2 separate regions of the Homo sapiens genome follow, and region 1 is linked to region 2. The links come from fine-mapping of genetic effects on gene expression. A gene starts in region 2. The other region holds a variant in brackets. All regions are shown on one strand. Distances are between the middles of the regions. Region 1 overlaps LOC124901339 (a long non-coding RNA gene). Region 2 holds the start of OGFRL1 (opioid growth factor receptor like 1).

Evidence for each region. PIP is the estimated chance that this variant, and not a neighbour inherited with it, causes the effect.
Region 1: its variant is fine-mapped to the expression of OGFRL1 in whole blood (TOPMed, PIP above 0.99).

What each region holds. Positions count from the first base shown.
Region 1 is chr6:71,246,501-71,254,838 of GRCh38, forward strand. LOC124901339 (a long non-coding RNA gene) reads right to left here. Exons shown (of 6, transcript XR_007059640.1): 6 at 4,858-5,144. It also overlaps the pseudogene LOC100132834. Among named protein-coding and RNA genes, the nearest start is that of OGFRL1, 38 kb to the right of the region's middle. RefSeq lists a silencer at 4,975-5,242. The variant A/G (reference allele first, on the strand shown) is at 4,136.
Region 2 is chr6:71,283,913-71,292,250 of GRCh38, forward strand. It overlaps OGFRL1 (opioid growth factor receptor like 1), which reads left to right and starts at 4,899. Exons shown (of 7, transcript NM_024576.5): 1 at 4,899-5,258. The coding sequence starts at 5,025. LOC124901339 (a long non-coding RNA gene) reads right to left here. Exons shown (of 6, transcript XR_007059640.1): 4 at 948-1,028. RefSeq lists a silencer at 4,552-5,611.

The DNA of each region.
Region 1 (8,338 bases), 37 kb before region 2:
AGCCGCTCTGCTGATGTTTATGGTTGCCATATGCTGCCCCTTCCTCTTTTGGTTCTGTTTTATTAATCTTATAATAAACATCTTCTCTTTCAATAATTCACCTCAAATACTTTTTGATAAGATATGATGCAAATACATTAAATTATGAAAATAAATTATATTTTTTCTATTTTTGTTAATTTTCCATTTCATTGGGTCTCTACGGCTAAGGTTTGAGTCCATGACATTTTTGGGTTTTGGCTCATTATGATCACCATCTGGTCTCTCTCTGCCCTTAATCTTTTCCCTATTTTCTCCTGTTTCCTCTCACCAAAATGCTGTCACCAAACACATCTTTCTTTCCCACTGAACTACTGTCACTGCCACCTCCTGTATCATGCACTGTCCCAGAAGATATTGCGCTAAGCCATAAGCAGTTTCCTCTTCAGCTTGTGCTTCCTTTGCTGTTTCTTCTTTGTCCTGCTTATAGCACCTTCCTGGCTTCATCTTCTCTTTCTTACTTTACAATACCACTAATGCTCCTGTAACACAAACTACCACCAATATAAAATCTCATGTCATCTGTTTGCCCTTTAATAATCCTTGAAATGAATTCACTTATAAAAATCCTTTTAAACCTCAGCAATTATATTCATCTATCACTACCCAGAGCTCCTGAATATTTAAATTATATTATAATTACGGTGCATTATTTTATTAATTGTATTAGTGAATAGTTCTATAGAACTGTAAGTAAATCATTAGACATAGTCCCTTAACCCCTTCTTCCTCAACCAAAAATATGATTAAATAATTTTATATATGTGTGTACTTTCTCTAAATTCCTTTCAGAATGACATAACGTAATAAATTTAACAGGAGACGAAATCAGGATGGCAGAGACAGTTAGAAAACTGGAAAAACAGCATCAATTTGGCAACTGATTACCTACTTTGTTGCTGAATAGAGGGTGATAAGTAAAGAATCTAGTCTGAGAAGAACTAAGTTTGAATCTTTGGCATTATGTTCCCTCAAATGTGCAGGTATCAAAATGAATTATAATTGGGAATAGCTTCCAAATTTATTACTCAGTACAGAACATAGCAGGTATCAAATCGAATTGAAGAATAAAACTAAAAGAGATATCATAGGAAAATAAAGTGGCATATTGTAAAATTAAAATACCCTGTTTTTCATATAAATTATTTAGCTGAAGCTGTATGACAGAGTGTGAAAGAAAATTGAAAAGTCTCTTTACCTTAGAAATGTTTGTATTCACTGACATGTTTCAACCTGGTAATAAATCAGCTTGGGGACCTTTTCCATAAAGAGATGTCACTATAAATTAGCTTTTACATTTTTATCTTAAGTAGTATCATCATAAAATATTCAATCAAGACACTAGAACTGTCAAAGTAGGTGGGTAATTTGAGACCTGGTGTTAAAAAAAATCTAATTCTTTCATGTTAGGATTTTTTTTCTTGTATATAAATTTTGATCTGTGAAAATACCAGGACTGTCATGGTAACAATAGATAATTTGCTCATAAATTATAATTATCACAAATGTTAGCAATCATGAATGCTAAGTAAGTACTTTGATCAGAAACTAACAAGAACAGACTAAATTGAAAGAAAACAGCACACCAAAATGTTTGGCCCTATTTTGTTCTGCCACAAAAGGAAAATATTCTTATGCAGCTGTTTTTTTTGTTTGTTTGTTTTTTGTTTTTTAGTTTTTCTTAGGTTATCTATCTTTCCATCTATTTCTTAATTGTAAAACAAATTTTAACAATTACAATGATGATAATATATTAGACTTCACATATAAGATTGAATGTGATCTTTTCCATACCCATATTAGGCAAGGAGACCAGGAAACACATAAAGAAACTAAAGCCTACACAGGTCACTGGGTGTCACTTTTGTCATGGCTTCTCACACTTCAGCAGACAGCAAGAGCTCATCTTCTTGGCTATTTCCCAAGAATACCATCTTGCTTACTTCTCCTTGCAGAAGGAGCATGTTCTCATTTTCACTGGCTCTTTGACTCACAGGCTGTACCAGTTAACTGTTGCATGCCTCAGGATGTTTCTGCCCTGGTGACTGGTTTAGCTATGCATTTCTGACTTTGACCTCTGACTTCACTGTTTGCTGTCTGCCTCCATCCAACCATTAAGGTCCTGAGAGCTACTTCCTGCCACCTCCCCCAACCCCTTAAGCCCATTTGAGCAAGGCTAGCTCTGTCTAGCCTCCCGCCAAGAGAGGGAGAGCCCAGCCCAGGAGCAATAAAGCCCAGATGATAATTCAAATGAAAGCACTTTTGGAAAATGTCATTCCAATGTTTTTGAAAATGACAACCATCACAAATTCTTGACTACTATCAGTTATTACTAGGCTGGTGACCTTGATAAAAAAAAAACACAATTATTATGAAGGCAGATCTGTGAATTTCTCTTACTTTTTAAAACTGAAGTAATAAATTCCCCAGGTATAGACTTCAAACAGCATCTGTTGACTTAATTAGAGGGGAAATGCTTCAAGGATGAATTCTTTTCCTACTCTGTTAACTTTTCAACAGATGATACATCTGAAACAATAGGCTGGGAGCAGGTGTGTGATGGCCTGAGTCTTAGCTTGCATTTGGCAAAACTCTGACTACTGAGTGAAGCCATTAGCGATGTTGTCAGTGAGATTGATGATGTTATGCATTTTGAAATTGTCCTTGACAAATTATATAAAATGTACAATTCTTCTCCAAAGACATATCATGAATTGTAGCAAAATGTAACACATATTACACCATTTCTCAGGGGTGAGGATTTTATTAGCTCAATGAGGCACACCCAGATTGAGTTGAAAAAGGTCTCTGAAATAATTCTACTATAATGTGTCATTGTAAGCAGTTCAGAGTCGACTGAGAAGAGCTGCTTGAATGAGCTGAGAGGGGGCTATTTAAACAACACCATGAACCTCTCCTATCATTAGATTCCTCCTTCCATATTAGATGGGGACCTGGTATGATGGAGGGGGTGGGTCTTGCAAAGACAGACTCCAAAGATGTGAGAAGACCATGGATAATAAACCTGAATCCAGTGTGCCAGTCAAATGTGTTGCCCTGAGCTTCTTAAACTAAATGCATTTGCCCTGTGCATAGGAAGAAACATCTGCATAGATGGATTGGGGCAAGTTCATCACCGCCAATAATTGATAATTTAAAATATTATCTTATGTTAGAACAGAGGTATTATGAGATACAATTTAAAAGTCATAAGATTTTTAAAAAGAAGAATAAGAATGTAAAGAAATCTATGTTTGCACTGGTTAGCCACCCTCCAGTTATGGGTACACATCTAGCTGCCTCTGACTTAAACATATTCATATGGACATGCTTATTTTGGATCAGAAAGTGGGTATCTAAGGATGGAGTCAGAATGGACAGGCAGAAGTACCACTTTAGGAAGCTTGAAGCATCTCCAGAGACCAAGGCTGAAATCCACACAAGGCTGAATAGATATGCTAGATCCCTTCATCATTCCCTCCCTGCTTCTCTTCTCTTCATAGAACTAAAGCACAGAATCATTGAGTTTCAAGATTCAGAGAGTTTTTTTTATAGAACCATCAAGTCTAATCTTATTATATGAAAATTGCACAAGAGTCTTAAGAAGTGGTTTTCAAGCATCTTTTGGCATACTTTCAATGACAGGAAACACACCATTTCGTAAGACAGCTCTTTCTACCTTTCAAGAATGTGAATTATTTAGGAAATGTGAGCTTGGTATGAGTACTCGTTTCTGAAGTCAAATTGTAAGAAGGAAAATTGGCCTTAGAAATCCACTTATCCTAACTTCTTATTCAGTGCTCTTTTCATGAATCTGTAGTAGATATTCTTGCTTCTAAAGTGGTCTAAAGAAAACTGGGTTGACAAAACTCTGAAAGGGAAGTCCTAACTCAAGCCAGGGGAAAAATAGCAAATGACATCACAGGAAGTTATGAAATCTAATTCAGTGGAGAAATATGCAGAGCTTTTGACCATCTCCTAAGACTGGGACAGGAAATTCTTACTCCACTTTTGGGTTGCAGGGCTTGTTTACGAAGAATATTTCCTCCTTTGTTATTCCCTTTGGACCAGCTTGCAGATTACTCAAAGATACTCC[A/G]TTGCCTCGGCCTGGGGGAAATAAAAATCTATTGTCCTATTAAATAAAATTAAAGGATGCACAAAAAAATATCATAATGATTCTAGAATTACTCTCAATTCTAGAGAGTCAACTACATGTCACTTTCAAAATCATCCTAGGGCATTATCTCAAAGTGATAAAAACATTTCACTTTTAATTAAGCAATTGATTCTTCTCCCTTGTCAAGTGCAGAACTTATGTAAAGATTTTATTGTACTCTATACATTCTTTTCACAATATCTACCACTTTAGTGTATCATCACTACTCCCATTTAATGCCCTATTAACTGAAATCTTGAAAAGGATATAGGGCATATGAAAGCCAACCTTATTTAGGGATCTATAGCTTGACATTCAGTTCCTGCTCATCAGCCCCTAAAGTGAAGTTTTATAGCAGATGTGCTCCATTTCAACAGAGTGCATGAAGTTCTCGGTCAAAACTCTTCTTACAGAGACCTAGAAGGAAAATAATCCTACTCATGCAACAGCAGAGGAAAGAAACCCTAGTGATCTACACCTTCTTTTTAAAACCTGGCTGGACAACAAAGGATAAAGAGAAATGTGAGAACTGTCAGCAGCATTCAAAAGAATAAGCAAGGTCAAAATACAGAAAAACTGATCTGAGAAACTAGAAATAATAATCTGAGCCACAAACTGTTCAAAGTTTACGTATAATAAGTTCAATCATTAGAACACCCTTATGAGGTAGGTACTATGTTACTTTATTTTACAGATGAAGGAACTAAGGTACAGCCTCTCCTGCCCCCAGGCTTAACCTCATGGTACAGGAAACCATCTGTAGGGTCTGTAGTTTCCCCATCTCCTCCCAGCCAAACCCCCGGTCATCTTGGCTTGAGTGGTTCCAGAGGCTCCACCAGGAAACATGGTTGCCCTCCTGACTGTCTTGGCACAGAATGTTGGTTGTTTTCATCCTTCAGGTAGAATTTAACCTTTTCAGCTTCAAACTGGAACCAGAGAGCTATTCAAACTAAGAAAACAAAGTTCATATGTACAGCAGTAAAAATTAAAAATCAAATTGTTAACATAGAGTCATCTCTACAACAACAACAACAACAAAACTTCAGAATTTGGCAGTGTGCTGAAAGAATTGGAAAATAAATTGATTATCAGCAGGAAAATAGAGCAAAAACCCAATAACAGTTGTTCAAAATATATAACAATGTAAAGTGACTTTAGCATCAGTTATAAAGTGTGACACCTACACCTGATTTTGTTGCAAAGCTCAGAGAAATGAACCTAAGCAATTAAAAATACAGTAAACAGTTTTAAGAAAGAACAGAGGTTGATTACATGAAAAGCTTAATAAAGACAAGAAAATAGCCAAAAATTAGTTGAATACTGTATCAAGGAAAATTGACATATGGGCTTTGGGTCACTAGAAACATGGAGAACTTTCAGAGGAATGTTAAGCAAAGTTCCTGTAGACAGAATACAACAAAGTAGTCTTCCAGGAGAAATGGTAGATTTTGCAAAATTCCTTCAGTAAACAGGAGGATGTCAAGGGTGCTGGATGATTGTGATCACCAGAACTTTGTAAAAATGAGAAACAAACATAAAAAGAAGACAAGATATATAGGGAAAGTTTTGCAACACCATCCTGGAAAAGCACAGGATAAAGTGCAACAGTATGAAAGATACATTAAAAATGTCTGACTCTAGAAGAGAGGAAAAAAAATCTATTCAAAATTGGAAAACTAAAAAACAGCAAACAGGGAGAATACTTTCAAGTTAAAGGGAAAGATGAAGGATAAGCCAGTCCTTCCTCAAAGTAAACAAGAATGTAATCACAAGCAAAAAGAGGAGCAAAAAAACCAAATTGGTGATTGAAGCTTAGAAAAAACAGAAAAATATTTAAGTGTCAATTAAATATGCTTATATTTTAAGGAAGCTAAAAGAGGAAGAAGAGAAAGAGACAAAGTGGCAAAAAAACCATCAATGTCAATGTAAACTAAAATTACTACCTGAAAGTAATACCCAGCAGAAGTAAAAACAGGAAGAATTTTTGAGGCTTGAAAAGGAAATAAAGGAAAAGGCAAAAAAAAAAAAAAAAAAAAAAAAAAGGAAATCTGTGGCTGATGAAATCTCCAGGTTTCAAGAAAGAGACTGATATAAACTTGAATTGAAAATTATAGATGGACAGGCAAAGGAAGGTGAAAAGACAGAATAACAAAAAGACTATCACAATTAAAAGATTGAAAATCATCAATATGAGATCCCTGCAGGCTTTCTAAGTTTACCAAAGGTTGGAAAGAATTAGACCGAAAATATTAGACCAACAAGTTCTGGGTCATTTCTACATGACCCACACAGGGAGGGCTATTGCTATCTGGAGACGAGTAAAGAGAAAGATATGAGATAATGAAATTGGTATTTACGCGAGGAGAATGTTAACATATTCAATTATTCTGGCAGATATAGTGACTAATTGTGTCCTTTAAATATCACTAAACTAGTCAGATTGATTATTAATTGTGCTGTAATGTGAATTGACAGTTCCATGCTGGCATCGTCATCAGTATTTCCTGTTTACGCTGAAGAGGTATTTAATGCATGTGTTGGTTTATTACCAACATAAAAGTTACTTAAATAAGTTTATTTACATACACTTAAATGTTCATTTAAATGCTCAGAACATTTTGAAAGTATTTTGTTTTTGTCATGGCATAGAAAAACAAATTGGGACAATCATAGAGTGACAATTTTTAAACCAAAAATTTTACAACTTTCAGAAAGTAGAGGTAAGCTACCTTGAGAAATAAAAATGTAAAGGTTTTTTTTTTTTAGTTACAAATCAGTATCTTTTCTAAGTTTAACAAATTGGTAGTTTTAAATTTTTGTGTAATAGGTATTTTATATCTGTTTGAAACACACAACCAAAAAAAAACAAAAGAAAAACAAAAAGAAAAGAAACTGTAGGGGAGAAAAATACCTTTTCCTTCTACCCATCTTAGGTTTATTGGTTGGGCCCCTGTAACAAAAGACAGATTAACAAGAGAAGAGCACATCTATTTATTTCATATAAGTTTTATGTAACACAGGAGCCTTCATTAGGAAATGAAGACCTGAAGAAAGCGTTCAAATGTGAAATGGGAGTGGTTTTTATAGCAGGTTTGAAGAAGTGTGGACAGTTGTGCAGAAATACTATAAGGTGGAGTATGAGGTAAGTGTAGTAAACTGGTGGAAACTTGGCAAGGCCTGTTTGTTCAGATGCCACTGTGTTCATCTTTGAAGACAGGATGTTCCTTCCTCCCAGGTATAGGGAGGGTACCTCTCACATCAGAGTTTTAGGACCTGCTTCAGAAGGTCAGAAAATTCCTTCCAGGTCAGAGAGACCTTTCTGCCGCTCCTGCCATTTTCTTAATCATTATGCCAAGATGTCATCTTTTGGAGTACTGTGTCCTGAACTCCATCAAAACTAAGGCACAGACAAGTTCCCCAAGGTTGTAAATCCACAGCAGAGCTGAGAATCAAATCCAGGCTGTCTGGCTTTAGAGTCCATCCTCTTAATCACTAGGCAGGCTGCCTCCTAATAGAAGAAAACGTTTAAAATCTAACTAATGTTCTCATGGATATTTGAGAAAGTATCATGACCTTAAATCAAGAATAGGATACTCAAGAAAGGAATAAATAGAGATCAAGAAAGAGCTCTTGGAGCTTTAAAATGGGAATGAGCAAAATAAAACAATTGAAGTACCAGAAGACAATTTCCCAGATCTGCCAAAATAGTAGTTGCATGGGATTCAGTTTATGAACCACCCCAGATCCGCAGTGACTGAATCTAGCAGTGACAGCTGCTGTTCCCATGGTGATGAAGTCAGGTCACTGCTTCTGCCGCTGCTGCTGAAAGGGGCCTGCTGTGGCAGCTGCCTTTGGTCCCTCGTGTCACCTAAGGACATGACCTGACAATATCTTGCCTCCTGCCCCTGCAGGATCTTTTGCTTTCTACCCTGGGGACTCATTGTTGCTGAGGACTCTCTTGACACCAATAACTATGCAACCTGTAAGTGTATAGGAATTATTCCATGGTGCAATCTTTGCCCAGAAGGAGATGAGACTGGGCAAATCACACTTTCTTCTTTTTAGAAGGACTGTGTGGAGAAGCATATCTTTAAACTTCCTTTCTGAAGCTGCCTTGTCCACTCAGCAGTCGTCAGCTTTTCA
Region 2 (8,338 bases):
AAAAATGAATGAACGAACAAACAAATAAACAACCCCAGCAGTACACACACAACATATCCTGCTATTTTTTGATACATTTGATATATAAGATTTGGAAGACCACACGGGTTCAGAAGAGTCTTGGCAGCAGTTTAGGTGCCAGTGAGGGAATTCAATTCATTTGTTACCAATATTTGATAGTAAAATATTTGACCCTTTATATCTATAATAAAAAATGCAGGCTGGGCGCGGTGGCTCACACCTGTAATCCCAGCACTTTGGGAGGCCGAACTGTGTGGATCACCTGAGGTCAGGGTTTCAAGACCAGCCTGGCCAACATGGCAAAACCCCGTCTCTGCTAAAAATACAAAAATTAGCCAGGCATGGTGGCGCATGCCTGTAGTCTCAGATACTTGGGAGGCTGAGGCAGGAGAATCACTTGAACCCAGGAGGCGGAGGTTGCAGTGAGCTGAGATTGAGCCATTGCACTCCAGCCTGGGTGACAGAGCGAGACTCCATCTCAAAAGAAAAAAAAATGCAGAAATCTCTTTGCTACTACAAGTTCAGTTTAGTTGAAATTAGACGTATGTGTGTTTATTTCTGTATCCCATTTAAAACAACCTTGAAAGCTTTGTTTTTGGTATACAGGAATTGCTTTAATTGCTGGTCATTTCTTTGAGAAGAATAAGAAGAAAGAATATTAAGGAAGAGGTAATGGACAGCAGAGATATTTTTGCAACAAGCCTTAGAAAGATAAAAGAAACATGCAGAAAAACACTGAATTGCACAATTGCATTGTCCAAAAAGAAAGAAAGATTTTTGTAAGAGGGGCTATGGTGATGTTAGTGGTTGGCAAGGATACAGGAGAAGATATCTCAGAATCATACAAAAAGTATAGAATATTTGCAGGGAGGAAGGAGGAAAAAATATTTTGTTTTCATAAATTATAACCTATTATAAACTCCTACCTTAAGGAAGGAAGATCCTGGGAAATTTCCAGCAAGTCTTGTCTGGTCAGGAACTCTATGTGAGGTTGTACATGCTGTGTCCTGCATGAAGAGTTCAGTTAAGGTGGTGGGAGGGAACTCCAGTTCAGGCCCTGCTCACTAAGCCCTGGAGCAAAGGTGTCTTATTCTCAAGAACACAAAGTTCTCATGGGTGCTAGCAGAGGCCCTTGGCTACAGTCAATGGAAAATAATATTACAGCATGTTACTACTAATTTCAGATGTTTCTTTAGAGAGCCATCTTTATTATTTTTAATTTTTAAAATAATACTATTTTTTTTTCCTCCAAAGATTTCAGGTTCCTGTGAGGTACTGAGGAGTTAACTCCTGAGGTTGGGGAAAATGGCCCTTGATCTGCCCTTTCCTTTTATTTGAAAGACTCTCAAATTATGTAATAATAAACCTTTGTTAATGTCCCTAAAACAGGATTGACTATAAAAGACAATTCAAGATATGCCAGATACATTTGGGTTTCATCCAAAAAAGTTTAGTTCCTGAAGCACCAGTTTCTTTGTCCTTTGTAAAATGGCCTCACCCTTAAAGGATTTCATAACGAAGTTGAAAACAGAGTTATATTGAAGCATGGCTATAGCATCTGCTTAATTTAGAGCAGATTCTATTTACAGGGAGTCAGAAACTATATTATAGTCCATTGTGATAATAGTTTCTCCTTGTTCCATACATGTGTATATTACTGTTGAATTATATGTTCTTTAAAGACATATTGAATGAATCATCATTACAGCTAACATATATTGATAAATTAATAGATGCCTGGCACTGAGCTAAGTGATGATTTTTATATGAAGCAAAGGTACCCTTCTTTACTGTTGATGCAGGAATGTTAAATACTCTGCAAGGCAGGGATAATGAAAAAAGTTTAGGTATTCGAGAAGGATAATTCCTGTGTATAGAAGCTTGGGATGACAGAACTTCAGCATTAACTTGTAAAAATAACACATAGATTGGGCACAATGTGGTCGTGCTTATTGCTCTAAACTTAAAATTGATTAAATATTATATAAGGTTGGTGTTACGCTTCATGTAAAATTATGTTCTTTAGAAAATATATTGCAAAATCTGGCATATCATCTATGGTCCTATAAAAATTGACACATTTTTCAAAAGGTGGTGTAAAAGGGAAGGATTTAATTGCAGTAGTTACTTAAATGTTTATATGCACAAACACAGATACTTCTCACCATTCCATCATCTACTGATGTATAACAAACTACTACAAAATTTAGTGACCTAAAGCAACAGCCATTTTATTGCATTTCACTCTTCTGTGGGTCAGAAATCTGAGCAGGGCTTTGCTGGGTAGTCCCTTTATTCCAAGTAGGGTCGATGGAGGTCACTGAAAGGTATTCAGATGGTGGATGGGTTGGTCTGGAGGATTCAATAAAAAAAAAAAAACAAAAACGTGGAATCCAGCAGGGGATACTGGAAGGTAGGCCTCAGCTGGTACCATGACCAGAGGATGACCAGAGGCCACACACAAGTGGCCTTTCTAGGAGTATGGCAGTCTCAAGCTAGCTGAACTTTTTACATGGCAGCATGGGGCTAACAGAGAGAATATTCCAAGAGACCCAGTGGAAAATGCAAGGTTCCTTATGGCTTAACTTAGAAAATCCTGGACTATCACTTCTTTCATATTCTATAGTTAAGCAAGTCACTGAGGCCAGCTCCTTCAAGAGTAAGGAATAAGACTACTTCTCAATGGGAAGAGAGCAAAGAACATGTGGCCAACTTTAATCTACATACACCTAAACCAACAGATGGAGCGCCTGGGACACAACAACTATCCTTAGACTTTCCACATCAACAATCTCGGAACACTTAAGGCTGGATGGACAATATCTACTTCTGCAATGTGTTCCGGTCTTCTACCAACGGAAAATCGAATTCCCAGCTTTGAGCAGTTGGATTCCTGTGGTATGTGGCTGCCCCACATCTTCTTCTGCTAAGCCATTATAATCAAAAAGTATTTTTTTTGGCGGGGGGTGGGGGCAATGGAGTCTCACTCTGTCGCCCAGGCTGGAGTGCAGTGGCCTGATCTCAGCTCACTGCAACCTCCACCTCCCGCGTTCAAGTGATTCTCGTGCCTCAGCCTCCCAAGTAGCTGGGATTACAGGCGCCCGCCACCAAGCCAGGCTAATTTTTATATTTTTTTGTGGAGATGAGGTTTCGTCATGTTGGCCAGGCTGGTCTTGAACATCTGACCTCAGGTGATCTGCCCGCCTCGGCCTCCCAAAGTTCTGGGATTACAGGCGTGAGCCACCGCACCCGGCCCCAAAAGTCTTTTTGTGCACCCCGTGTCTATTTCTTATTAGTTTCAGAGCTTTTCCCAGTCATAGGATCACAGAAGGTCAGAGCTGGAAGGGCTCCCAGAGATCTGGTTTCATTTTACAAATGAGGAAGTTTAGGTTCATGTGACCTACTTAAAGTCAGAAACTGATTAGTGACAGAGCTACAGCCTAGATGTCTTGTTGCAGTGCATGAAGAGCTTAGGTAATCCTGATTTATCCATGGAATAGGCAGCTGGTTTACCTGATTCTTCCCTTAGAAACAGTCCATCTAACATGATTTGGCTTCCTACTTCATCATGAAACATTTGAAAAGAAACTATTCATTCCAAGTTCAACAGTTTAATCTTCAAATATCTAGCTCATCTTTCTTAGTCCATATTTAACAAATGTTTACTGAGCATCCACCAAGTTGACAGCACTGTAAATACAGACACACTTTCAGACGGGGGCTGCCTGCAAAGAGGCTTCCCTTCTAGTTAGAAAGCCAGAAGACACATTTTACAACAGTCACTTTTCTCTGGGTCACATATTTGATAATACTACCTTATCTTTACGTACTTCTATAGGCTTATGCCTGTAATCCCAGCTATTGGGAGGCTGAGGCAGGAGAATTGCTTGAAACCAGGAGGCGGAGGTTGCAGTGAGCCGAGATCGCGCCTCTGCACTGCAGCCTGGGCAACAGAGGGAGACTCTGTCTCAAAAAGAAAGAAAAGAAAGAACAGAACAACAGAACAGAACAGAACAGAACAGAACAGAACAGAACAGAACAGAACAGAACAGAACAGAAAAAAGAAAGAACTTCCCTAACACAGTTCTCCCTCCTCCTTTCATTTGCAGAACAGACCACAGGGCCGAGGCTTCTTCCATTAGAAACAGCCCATCTGTTCTACTGATTCTGAGATTTTTGCCTACACGGAGCACCAATTTGTAGTGGGTGTAAGGTTACCCGCAAATCAATGTGATGGTCCAGTTGTTACTGTTCCTTTTGTTTCACGAGCGATTGCTCATTAGATGAGGTGACTGATAGCTCTGACTTTTTCTAGACCACAAGGACTCTAGGTGGCTGCCCTAAGTACAGTTGTGGCAGCTGGGATTTCCTGTTTATATGGTGCCCGGCACCATCAGCTTTTGTCCTCTGCTGCAGCTAAAGTGTCTTCCTCCTGGACCAGGGAGAGGGGGAGGGGGTGTGGACAGGACCCGCCTGCTGACGGTGACACCTCTTCGACACCACGTCCACGCCAGTCCTCAGCTCCAGGAGCTGGGCGGGATCCCTCATCCCGCTCAGCTGGGAGATGCCCCGGGAGGGCGTCCCCCGGCTCCGGGCGGCGAGGGTAGTAGCCGACCCCAATCCACTCCGGGGGCCGCCGGGGGCCGCGTGAAGGCAGGTGTTCCGGGGAGAAACGTGGAAGGGAGGCGCGGCCTGGGGCCGGTGGCGCTCGGCTGGGGGCCGCAGTTGGCTCCCCTGGGGGCTCTGGGCGGCGGCAGCTCCCGCCTGTGGGGAGGAGAAGGAGCCGGATGGGCGGGTTCAGGCGCGCGCGGCGGCGGTCCCGGGGCCGCCGGCTCCTCCCCGCGAGGGTGCCTGTCCGCCGCTCGCCGCGCTGAGGCAGTGCGGGGCGGGCGCGCCTAGGCTGCCGCCCAGCGCCCTCGCCGCGGCCATGCCCGGGCCCTAGAGCGCCTGCCGCAGCTTGCGCCCCGCAGCCCCGCAGCCCCGCGCCCGCCGCCGCCTCTTCAATGGGCAACCTGCTCGGCGGGGTCAGCTTCCGCGAGCCCACCACCGTGGAGGACTGCGACTCCACCTGGCAGACCGACTCGGAGCCCGAGCCCGAAGAACCAGGGCCGGGCGGCGGCAGCGAGGGCCCGGGGCAGGAGTCCGAGCAGCCCGCGCAGCCCCCGGAGCAAGCCGGCGGGCGGCCCGGCGCCAGCCCCGCGCCGGACGAGGACGCCGAGGCGGCGGGCGCCGAGCAGGTACGCGGCCCAGCGGTGGCCTCGGGTCGGGCTGGGGCGCCCCGACACCCCAGAGGGGCAAGTGCCAAGCCGCCCTCGCGCTCGGAGGCCAGGGGCGCCAGGTGGCTGCTCGCCGCTGCGACCCGACCCCTCCGCGCCGCGGCTGACCTGTCTCCCGGTGGAGCCCGGGGGCCTGCAGGAGCCCAAAGCGCCGGACCCTCCCACTGCCGGCCTGGGGCCTGGCCGAGGGCACGGCGAGGAAGTCCCTCAAGGCAGAACCCAACTTGAATGGGTGTTTTCTTTGCCTCTGCAGAGCAGCTGGATTATGCGAAGGTGGGGTGGGAGGAACCTGTCTAAAAATAGAGGATTTTGACAACCCCTCTAGTGTGTGTTATTGGTAAAAAAAAAAAAAAAAAAAAAAAAAAAAAAAATTACTCAGAATAAGGTGGGGCTACAAGTGCAAGCAGCCAGCGCTCTCCCCTACAGTGGGGTCTAAGCCGTCAGAAGTGTAGGCCCTCATCTGAAGTTCATACGTCACTGTTCTGCCCAACTCAGGCCTTTCAACCTAGGATTCAGGGCATTCTTCACGAATCTTATTTCACCAGAAGACTTGTTGATCCAACTGTGTTTGAACTGTTTGACTAATACAGCTTGGAGGAGAGGTTAGTCAAGAGATAAGCCCCTTAACCTCTGATGGACTGAAAATAATCAGGAACTTTAAAAAGGAGGAAATATGTAGCCGACCCCCTGAAGAAGTGTGCATCCTGGAGGTGGTTCAGGTTTGCCGCTCCACATTAGGCCCTTCTCTTTATCAGCTAGGGGCGATGGAGATTGGGAAAATGGAGCCCAAAGTCCAATGTGACCACAGGGTTTTGGGGGAATCATAACCTAAATATTACAGCTAACACCGCCTCAGCCATCTTGATGATCAATTCTATTTAGGTAAGGAGGAAATCATAAAGTCTTAGTGCAGGCTCTGTGTTAAACGTGTTATTTAAATGAACTACAATTTTGGGGTGGGTGTTTGCTGTGTGGTCTCCATTTTAGAGAAAACTGAGGCTTAGAGAGAAAGGAAAACTTGCCCAAGATCACTGAGGGAGAGGATGATGCAAACCCAAGTCTATCTATCACTGATATCAGCGCCTTGGACCTGTGGAATTCTGAATTTCCATCTGCCCCTGTGTCTGGTTTGCCGCTGTTGTTTTGCATTGCTAATTCAATCTTATTAAATTATTAGATGCTGCATTCTCATGTTTTTCCCTTACGTTTGTCTCCCAATTAAGTAACCTCCTACAGAAATTTGGAATATCAAAAAACACCAGCTAAGATTCAATCCAACTAACCAGGTCCATCTATATAAAACATTTTAATAATGTTCAGTCAGTTAACTGCAACCCCAGTAACTAGTAGACTACACCAGCCCTCCCTATTCCCTTTTAATGATTAATTTTTCTTGTTAGTATCACCATCTGACTTCCCCAAAAAATCTGCTTTTCAATTTTGCCTTTTGACTGCCAACCCTATTTGTTGTCTATTCCTCAGAGTCAATCCACTTGCAGGTAATACTGGAGCTACTTTTAAAGCGTATCCCAGACTGACTCCTTCACACCACTTCCATTGCATCATCCTAGTCCCTCTGAATACTGAACAAATGATGGTGACATTAACCAAGACAGGGAAGTCTAGGGAGAATGCAGCTATGGAGGTTAAATCAACGATTCTCTTGAGTTTGATATCCTATTACACATCCAAGTAGAGTTGTTGGGTAGTTAATCATTTGTTGGGTAGTTAAATTACATCTATGAATGGAGACAGTCCAGGACTAGAGTCCTCAGCATCTGAGATCAATGGTATTTAAAGGCATGGGAAGATAAGGGGTTATCAAGGAGTGATGACGACTGAGGACCTTAGGCACCCCTCCATTTAGAGGGTATGAAGAGGAGGAGGAGCCAAAAAAGGAGGCTGACAAGGGGAGCCCAATGAGACAGAAAGTAAACTAAGAAAGTTATAGTAGCCTGTAAGCCAAATACTGACAGTGTTTCAGGAAGGAGGGATGCTTTAATTGGCCCAGTTCTGTTGGGAGGTCACCTGAGGTGAACATTAAGAAATGGTTTGGCAAGATGGAGACTTATTGGTGAAGTTCACAAGAACTATTTTGTTGGAGTGCTGAGGACAAAAGCCTGATTGAGGTGGGTCAGGGGAAAATGGGGAAAGAAAAGAAGGAAACAAAGTATGGGCAATTCTTTGGTGGTGATTTGCTATAAAAAAGGAGTAGATATATGGATCTGTAATTGATGGTAGGCCTGGGTCAAGGAATGTTTTGTATGTTTATTTTAAGATTAAAGATACTACAGCATGTTTGTTTGAGATCGAGAAGAGAGGGAAATTTTGATGATCCAGGAAAGAGGAACAATATTGAACAACAGAATCCTTGTCTGAGCAGGTGAAAGGGGTCTGGGTAGAGAGTCCAAAGGGAATAGGGGTTGGAAGAGCAGGAGCAGATGCTGGCAGGACACAGACATTCTTATGATAATCCTGAGAAATAGGTAGGGCTTGAGTCATTATCTTTATTTCAGAGATGATAAAACTAAGATTCAGCTAAATGATTTGCTTAAGGCCTCACAAATACAAGTAAGCAGCGTTCAGATTGCTAGTCTTCTGACTCCAAGTCTTGGGCTACTGATACTACACCAAGGTTTCCATATATCCTTCATTTTTTAGTGTGACTGAGATTGATTCAGACCTGGACTTGGGACCCAGAGCCTGGGATTCTTGTTCTTGCACTGTCACTGGACTCTGGGTGGTGTGCAACTTCTCTAAGCCCCTGATATCTTGTTTCTAAGATGGAAACACTTATTAACTGTCAATCAGGTGTGTTTTAAGAATCAAATGAAATAATGCCTTTTGACTGTCAACCCTGTTTGTTGTCTATTCGCTATATATGTAAGTGCTTTGTAAATGGAGAGTGCCTTCTATACAAATGTAGGATGATGATTCATATGGTTGTATCTCAGGCTAAATAGATTCAGAAACTTGCTAGGCAGAGCTATTTTGAAACGTGTGGCAAGGACCAGAATTCAAGCTTTTCCTTGCTTATGTAA